3 separate regions of the Homo sapiens genome follow, and all the other regions are linked to region 3. Evidence: fine-mapped expression QTL. A gene starts in region 3. Each other region holds a variant in brackets. All regions are shown on one strand. Distances are from middle to middle.

Region 1 (2,766 bases), 21 kb after region 3:
GAGGCACGATCCTAGCTCACTTCAACCTTGACCTCTGAGCTCAAGTGATCCTCCCTACTCAGCCTCCCGAGTAGCTAGGATTACAGGCACGCACCACCACACCCAGATAATTTTTTGTAGAGACAGGGTCTCACTAAGTTGCCTAAGCTCAGTCTTGAACTTCTGGCCTCAAGGGATCCCCCTACCTTGGGCTCTTTACCAGCATTTTCTTGTATTTCTCCTCATCTTCAATAGCATTCAACTGAAACATCACCCACGTTCATCATCTCTCCCTTTTCTACACCATGGCCTTGAGTAAAGCAAGTGAGATAGCAAGGGAGATACGAATCAGAACAGCTAACCATAACAGCTGACTCTTATATACTGTTTAGCATATGCCAGTTTCGTTTTCCACCAATGTAATAATTGAACACTTAGAACAAGTGGGGATATATATATATATATATATATATATGTATAACACATATATATATAAAACCATATATTATATATATAATCATACCCATTGTACAAGTGAGAAAACTGAGTTAACAGAGAGGTTTAGTAACTTGCCCAGGGCCGTGGAGCTTTTAAATAGATTCAGCGCTAGAGTCCATGCACTTAAACACCATACCTTTCCTTGTAATATGCATGTGCGTGTGTTAACTTCATTGAAGTAAAATATAAAATGCAGAAAAGTGCACAAGTCGAAAGCATACGACTCAGCAGATTTTCATAAAGTGAGCACACCCATGTACTAGCACCCAGATGAAAGAGCAGAGCACTCTCAGCCCTCCAGGAGTTCCAGTCATCTCCCTCCCCAGTCACTGCCCCCTCCTCCCTAAGGTTAACTGCTCTTCTGACGTCTCTCTCCATTCTTCTGGGAGTTTCCTTCCCATCCTATTTTAATCCACTCATATTTTAAGCATCATGGGGTTTGTGGCTAAAGTTAGAAATATTCTATATATTCCATCTTGCAGTAGAGGTGGCAGTGGTTGGGAGAACACATTTCCTAGAGAAGAGAAACAATTGAGGATGGGGGGTTTAGGGGGTACTTGCTTTAGTTTCCCCACATTCTCTTTGCCAGTAAACCTAAGTAAGCTTCAAACCTTGACTCCATCCCCTCCCCACCAGGACTACATCTCCCAGCAGGCTGTGCTCTGACAGCTCTTGGATTTAAATAGGATTCTGGGCTCTGCTCAGAGTCAGGCTGCTGCTCAGCACCCAGGACGGAGAGGAGCAGAGAAGCAGCAGAAGCAGCCAAGAGCTGGAGCCAGACCAGGAACCTGAGCCAGAGCTGGGGTTGAAGCTGGAGCAGCAGCAAAAGCAACAGCAGCTACAGAAGTTGGAACGATGCTGGTCACCTTGGGACTGCTCACCTCCTTCTTCTCGTTCCTGTATATGGTAGCTCCATCCATCAGGTTTGTCTTAATTCAGCAACTCAAACAATCGTTTACAAAGACCTGCACTGGAAGCCGGTTCTCAGCTGCTGAAAGAAGAGAAAGGGAAGGAGGCTGACAGAGGAGAAAGTCAGGGCAGGAAAAGCAGGAAGGAAGGGGGTGTTGTGGATACCATGGTGGAAAACCAGAAGGAAGCATCTGCGGCCGGGCAGAGGTGGGGCTGAGTTCTGGCCCCACCTGAGCTCTGGGGAGAGTTCTACTGCCAGCGGAAGGCTGCATGGATGACTCTGTCAAGTAGCTCAACAAACACCTTAGGTGGGAGTCCTTGC[G/T]TTTTCATTTTATTCCTTTGGGTGTCTCTGAAGAACTCGGAGACTCTGTCCCTATTCAGGGTGGCCCTGCTGGCTTGTCATGCTGTTAAGTACCAGGTAGTTTGGGAAAGAAACAAACTCTTCTGCCTTTGAGACTACCCTCAATTAATGTTTTGGGATGGCTTTTTTGCTGTGGGATTTCTAGAGGTGTCAAATAAAAGTGTGTTCTGAGTGGAGAATTTTTAAATTTCTCTTTTTTAATTTTTGCTCTGTCACCCCAGGGTGGAGTGCATTGGTGTAGTCATAGGTCACTGCAGCCTTGAACTCTTGGGCTCAAGCAACCCTCCTGCCTCAGCCTCCCAAGTAGTTGGGAATATAGGCAGGTGCCACTACACCCAGCTACTTTTTAAATTTTTTGTGGAGATGGGGGTCTCACTATGTTGCCCAGGCTGGTCTCAAACTCCTGGGCTTAAGCGACCATCCCACGTTGGCCTCCCAAGATGTTGGGATTACAGGCATGAGCCACTGGGCTCAGCCTAAAAAATTTCTTATGATAAAGGAGGTTAAATGGACCTACCAAGGACAGTGTTATTCTAGGTTCTCCATAGAGATCTGGGTTCAAGTCCCACTTCTGCCACCACTATGTGACATGAACCTCCCTGAGCCTCAGTTTTCTCTACTGTAATGTGGAAATAATACTGGAGAAGTTGAGAGGATTAAAATAAATTACATATGGAAAGTGCCTAGACTAGTAATTGGCAGTCAGATGATGTGCAGGAAATGTTAGTTCTGCCCCTCCGTATTCTGTTTTAGGACCTGTGAAGTCAACTTCATGTAAAAGAGTGCTCTCTGCACAGAGGTCTGAACAAAGGAGGTTTTCTCTCTGTTTGCCATCGGCCAGAATGAAATCTCTAATACAATGGCTGAAAGCCTCGGAAATGACCCACTCCCTAAAACTGGAGAGGCAGCCTAAGATCAGTACCTGTGTATGCCATCCCCCAGAGTGCTAAGAGCAGTACCTGTGTGTGCCACCCCCCACAGAGTGCTGTTCATCAGTTACTCATGATGATGGTTACTGA
Region 2 (2,766 bases), 150 kb after region 3:
CTCCCAAAGCACTGGGATTACAGGCGTGAGCCACTGCACCTGGCCTAAAATTGTTTTTTCTTGACTTTTGTCTATATGTGTTAGTTTGAAATATCAGTTGTAATTATTTTTTTCTGCTTGGTCTAGTCTGTTGATAAAATTTTCAACAGCTTGGCAATCATAAAGTGAAGTTTTCAGTTCCAGAAGCTCTAATTGATTCCTTTTTAAGATGTTTATCTCCTTTTTCATTTCCTGGATTGTTTTATTAGATTCTTTGTGTTGATTTTCAGTCTTTTCTTTTATATCTTTGAGTTTCTTCCAATCCATGCTTTGAATTATTTATCTGACATTTCTGAGTTTCCATTTTGGTTGGGGACCTTTCCTAGAGAGCTACTGTGATTCTTTGGTGGTGTTACAAAAATTGGATTTTTCTGGTGCCAGCATTCTTATGTTGCTTCCTTCTCATTTGTAGGTGTTGGCACTTCTAAATTTTTGTTTTTTGAGACAGGTTCTCACTCTTTTGCACAGGCTGAAGTACAGTGAATCATGTCCCACTGTAGCCTCGACCTCCCAGGCTGAAGCAATCCTCCCACCTCAGCCTTCCAAGTAGCTGGGACTATAGGCGTGTGCCATCATGCCTGGCTAATTTTTTAATTATTTGTATAGACAGTGTCCCACCGTCGTCTTGAACTCCTGGGCTCAAGCAATCCTCCTGCTTTGGCCTCCAGGGTTGGAGTGCTGGGATGGATTACAGACATGAGTCACCGTGCCTGGCTGGCACTTCAAATTTTTGTAGATATTTTCATGCAGGTAGGGTTTTCTTTCCCTTTCTTTTCTTGTATTATTATTGTTTTTTCCCCCTTTCCTTCCCCCACTCACTAAAGGGTGTGACTTAAGAGTATGTCGAGTAGGGTCTTTTGTCTTTGTTTCCATGGCCTTCTGTTCTGGCAGCAGGTTGTATATTGGGCTGTGGAGTTCAACCTACGGGCCAGTAGATGATGCTTACGGGTGAGAGTCAGCTGTGGTGGAAGCAGACAGTTATGTACTTGGTATTTGTTTACTGTGAAGAACTCTCTGTTGTTCCAGGTGATAGGCTAGACTGTGGAGGGCTGCATACCATGTACTTCCTATTTTACGGGAGTGCTGGGGACATAGCTGGGTAGAGTGGATAACCTGGCTTGTCCACAAATACCCCTATGTCAAATGTAGAAGTGTAGTCCCCAACCCTGATGAGGGT[G/C]GCTAGGAAAAGCTCCCAGTGAATTGTGCCACAGTCTCTGTGGGGGTTTGGGGTGCTACACAAGCCCCTTCTAGATAGACTGGAATGTAGATTGTTGCCCAGTCACACCCTTGTTCTAGAGCTCTTGACTCCTGGATCAGACACACACTGCAGCCTATCTCCAGACCACCATGTGGTTGAGAGCCTTAGGAAATGTCTAATTTTTGACTCTCCAGGGGAGTGGTTTTTGGGGCAGAACTTCATCACTTAGCTTAATATAGGTAGCTGTGTGGCTCCTCTGCTCTCCAATGTGATGACTCTTCTTCATTTAAGAGCGGGGTTGGGGGACTCCTTCTTTGGGCCTCTGCAGGGGTGTGTTGGTTTTGGTGGTGTTGGCTGGTTGCGTCGGTTCAACCTCAGGCAATGGGAGATGTGGTAAAGTACTAGCAAAATTGGAATAGGGTAGGGAGATCTGTAAGTCCCTAGTTAGTCCCTAGATGGCTGGCTGGACTTCCTCTATGAGTCTTGATGGGGCTGGATTGTTGGGGAGCCTCAGGTCCTGGCTGTGATGGGAAGGGGTGAGGGCTGATATCTGGGTGAGGGGCTAAACTCTCAGGCAGGGCACTTAGGCGGTGGGAGCCCTAGGGAAGATCACAGGTCTATGGGGGTAAGGTTTTCGACAGGGCTTTGGGCCATGACTGAAATGCTCATGTAGGGGTCGGCTATGTGCAGTAGAAGCCAGAAGGCAGCAGTCCTGGTTGGGGAGTGGGCAGTGGAGGAAGGGGGTCATGTGGAAAGCATTCTGGCCACCTCTCTGAAGGGTAGCTGCTGGCACTGGAGTTTCTCTCCCCAGCCTGGGGGCAGCAGGGGTGGCCACGGCAGAGGACCTGTTCAGTTGCCTTTGGGAGTGATGGTGATGGGGGGTGTACCTGGGAAGAGGGAATGGGGAGCAGGTTGGGTACTCCTCTCTGCTGATGGAGGTGCTTGAAAGCACCTTTGTTCCCTCCCTAGCCTAGAAGTAGCAAGGATGGGTACTGCAGCAGCTGCAGTGGCAGAGGGCCTGTCAGTTGCCTTTGGAAGCTCCACCCTAGAGAAACAGAGCTGCTACTCACTGAAGTGATTATGTGGGGGTAGGGGTGCCTGTGCTGGCGGCCCAAGTCAGGAGGCCCTGCCCTGTAAGGAGCAGCAGGGGCTGGGCCTCTGAGAGCAAAGAGTCTGGCCACCTTTCCTGAAGGCAGCTGCATCCTGCTGGAGGTCTACTTACTCTCAAGGCAGCTGCATCCTGCTGGAGGTCTACTTACTCTCAGGCTCTTCACTCCCTCCCCAGCCTGAGAGCAGCAGGAGCAAGGACCTGACAGAGGCAGTTGCAGTGGGCCTGTCAGTTACCTCCGGGAGCTCTGACCCAGTGAAATACAGAGCCAGAGCCGTGACCGACTGACCAGAGTGCTCAGTTGGTGGTGGAGTGGGCGTGCTGGGGGCCCAGGCCAGTGGCCTTGCCTGGCAAGGAACAGCAGAGGCAGGGCCTGCAGTCTGACTGCTCCTAAACTCCATGGATATGGCTTCTATCCTAG
Region 3 (2,766 bases):
TTGGCTGGGCATGGTGACTCATGCCTGCAATCCCAGCACTTCGGGAGGCCGAGGCGGGTGGATCAGCTGAGGTCAGGAGTTTAAGACCAGGCTGGCTAGAATGATGAAACTCTGTCTCTACTAAAAATACAAAAATTAGCTGGGCACGGCGGCGAATGCCTCTAATCCCAGCTACTCGGAGGCTGAGGCAGGAGAATCACTTGAACCTGGGAGGCGGAGGTTGCAGTAAGCGGAGATCTTGCCACTGCACTCCAGCCTGGGTGACAAGAGCAAAATTTCATCTCAAAAAAAAAAAAAAAAAAAAAAGTCAAAGATTACAGAAGTTGACAAAAAGGTTGAAGGAGAGGATTATCATTTCAACCAAGAAAAACATGTATCTTTTTAAGGGTATAAAGAACGAACAACAACGATTCATGACTTGGGAATCATGTGCAGCGAGGTATAGCACAAGTAGAATTTTTTGAGATATAAATTTGAGAAGTTTTAGAAAAGAAATAGATTGTAGAATTTAAAATCAAAAGCTCTTGTAATTCACTAAGAGCAAATTTATACTTTAAGACAATGTTATTTTAACATAGAGGACCAAAATCTCAATCTTTAGAAACACTTATAACTTTTTTTTGATTATAGCCAACTTAATCACATATACATTTAAAAAAATTTTAAAGAACTTTATTATAATTTCTTTTTTTTTTTTTTTTTTTTTTGAGATGGAGTCTGTTGCCCAGGCTGGAGTACAGTGTCACTATCTTGGCTCACTGCAAACTCCGCATTCCAGGTTCAAGTGATTCTCCCGCCTCAGCCTCCCGAGTAGCTGGGACTACAGGCATGCGCCACCATACCTGGCTACTTTTTGTATTTTTAGTAGAGATGAGGTTTCACCATTTTGGCTGTGCTGGTCTCGAACTCCTGACCTTGTGATCCGCCCACTTCAGCCTCCCAAAGTGCTGGGATTACAGGCATGAGTCACCACGCCAGGCCTATTATGATTTCTGTAGACTATTTATGACATGTTTGAACTTTTGTTTTGCCCTACCCTTTCTCTTTTATAATTAACCTGTCATTTTGCTTTAGGAAAATAATTTACCATGTAATAAATTATTATCATGCAGTGGCATGATCAGCTCATCGTAACCTCAACTCCTGGGCACAAGCAATCCTCCCTTCTCAGCTTCCTGAGTGGCCAGGACTACAGGTAAGTGCCACCATGCCAGACTAATTTTCAAAATTTTTGTAGAGACAGTATCTCACTGTGTTGTAGAGACAGTGTCTCACTATGTTGCTTAGGCTTGTCTTGAACTCCTGATCTCAAATGATCCACCTGCCTTGGCCTCCTAAAGCATTAGGATAACAGTCATGAACCACTGTGCCCAGCTTTTTTAAAAATTTAATATATATATATTTTTTAAATGGAGATGAGATCTCATTATGTTGCCCAGGCTGGTCTCAAACTCCTGAGCTCAAGTGATTCTCCCACCTTAGGGTCCCAAAGTGCTAGGATTACACACATGAGCCACCATGCCTGGCCTGTGCTCAGTTTTTTAAGTTTTTTTCTATTAACCATTTTTATAGCCTGTGAATGTCAGATATTTACCTAAGCAAGAAATTTAAAGTTAAATACATGGGTATTTTGTTGATAACTCAGAAGGTTTAGCTGTATTTCTTAAACCAACAATATTAAATTAGTCTTACTTATAAAAAAAATCACACAAAGATTATTTTGGTTTTGGCTGGGTTCATAGTTTTTTACCTTTGTGCCAAATCCTGACCCTGTAAAATATTTAATAAGACAAGTATAAATCTGACCATAAATCTAGGCAAATATGTATGTTGACAATTTTGAAGACATTTTAATATTTATTTTACTAATAATTTTAAAGCCAGTTTATTTATTAAAGAATTACTTAAGTCATGTGAACTTGGAAAACCTTTGGGCTTACTAATTTATGAGTGCTCATTTATCTATAAGTCAATTGGGTATCATGTAGATACAACATATAACATATTACATGTATATATGTAAACACATCTAAACACACATATATATGCACAAATAGAGATCTTATACCTTTATTTTTTGATTTGTCTTTTGAAACAGGGCCTCACTCTGTTGCCCAGGGTAGAGAGCAGTGGTATGACCATGGCTCACTGCAGCCTGGACCTCCCAGGCTCAAGTGATTCTCCCACCTCAGCCTCCTGAGTACCTGGGACTACAGGTGCGTGCCGCCATGCCCAGCTAACTTAAAAAAGTTTTTTTTTTGTAGAGTCAGAGTCTCACTATGTTGCCAGGGCTGGTCTTGAGCTCCTGGGCGCAAATGATCCTCCTACCTTGGCCTCCCAAAGTGCTGGGACTGCTGGCATGAGTCACCTCATCTGGCCCTTATAGTTTTCATTTTAGAATTTTAGTCATGAGATAGTAATACAAACTCACCAGTTTATAAAAGATAGTTGGATCTAAATTATTTTTGGAAAAAATTGGGACCTGTTAGTTCACATGGCTAAATTTTATTTGTCCCAATAGGTAATCTAATGAAGGCTGTGAGCCAAAATTTTTGGGTAAGGTAGTTCGATGGCAGTTTTATTTTAAAAATCTTTTATCCTTTTATTCAGTTTCAAATGAGTTTAGAGTTAGGTTTTTAATGTTAACATTTTAGCTTGAACTGGCTGAATCGTATAAGAAAAACAAAATTTCTAAGTCTTCTTAAGTTAGTAATACTATAAACAGTGAGCTTTATCTCAACACAAGTAGAAAAGTCAGTAGTTTCA

Alleles and levels. Alleles are on the strand shown, and positions count from the first base shown. SD is a standard deviation of normalised expression in the study named.
For the expression in sun-exposed skin of the gene that starts at base 1,146 in region 3, G is the low allele of the variant in region 1 and T is the other (small effect, 0.16 SD a copy in GTEx).
In carriers of allele G in region 2, the expression in thyroid of the gene that starts at base 1,146 in region 3 tends to be lower than with C alone (moderate effect, 0.41 SD a copy in GTEx).

The links.
Region 1: its variant is fine-mapped to the expression of RDH12 in sun-exposed skin (GTEx, PIP above 0.99).
Region 2: its variant is fine-mapped to the expression of RDH12 in thyroid (GTEx, PIP above 0.99).

Annotation. Positions count from the first base shown.
Region 1 is chr14:67,721,311-67,724,076 of GRCh38, forward strand. RDH12 (retinol dehydrogenase 12) reads left to right here. Exons shown (of 9, transcript NM_152443.3): 3 at 1,114-1,400. The coding sequence starts at 1,333. It also overlaps a transcript of GPHN not described here. Among named protein-coding and RNA genes, the nearest start is that of RDH12, 21 kb to the left of the region's middle. The variant G/T (reference allele first, on the strand shown) is at 1,709.
Region 2 is chr14:67,849,538-67,852,303 of GRCh38, forward strand. The region is part of intron 4 of RAD51B (RAD51 paralog B); the gene reads left to right. Among named protein-coding and RNA genes, the nearest start is that of RAD51B, 31 kb to the left of the region's middle. The variant G/C (reference allele first, on the strand shown) is at 1,217.
Region 3 is chr14:67,700,741-67,703,506 of GRCh38, forward strand. It overlaps RDH12 (retinol dehydrogenase 12), which reads left to right and starts at 1,146. Exons shown (of 9, transcript NM_152443.3): 1 at 1,146-1,195. It also overlaps a transcript of GPHN not described here.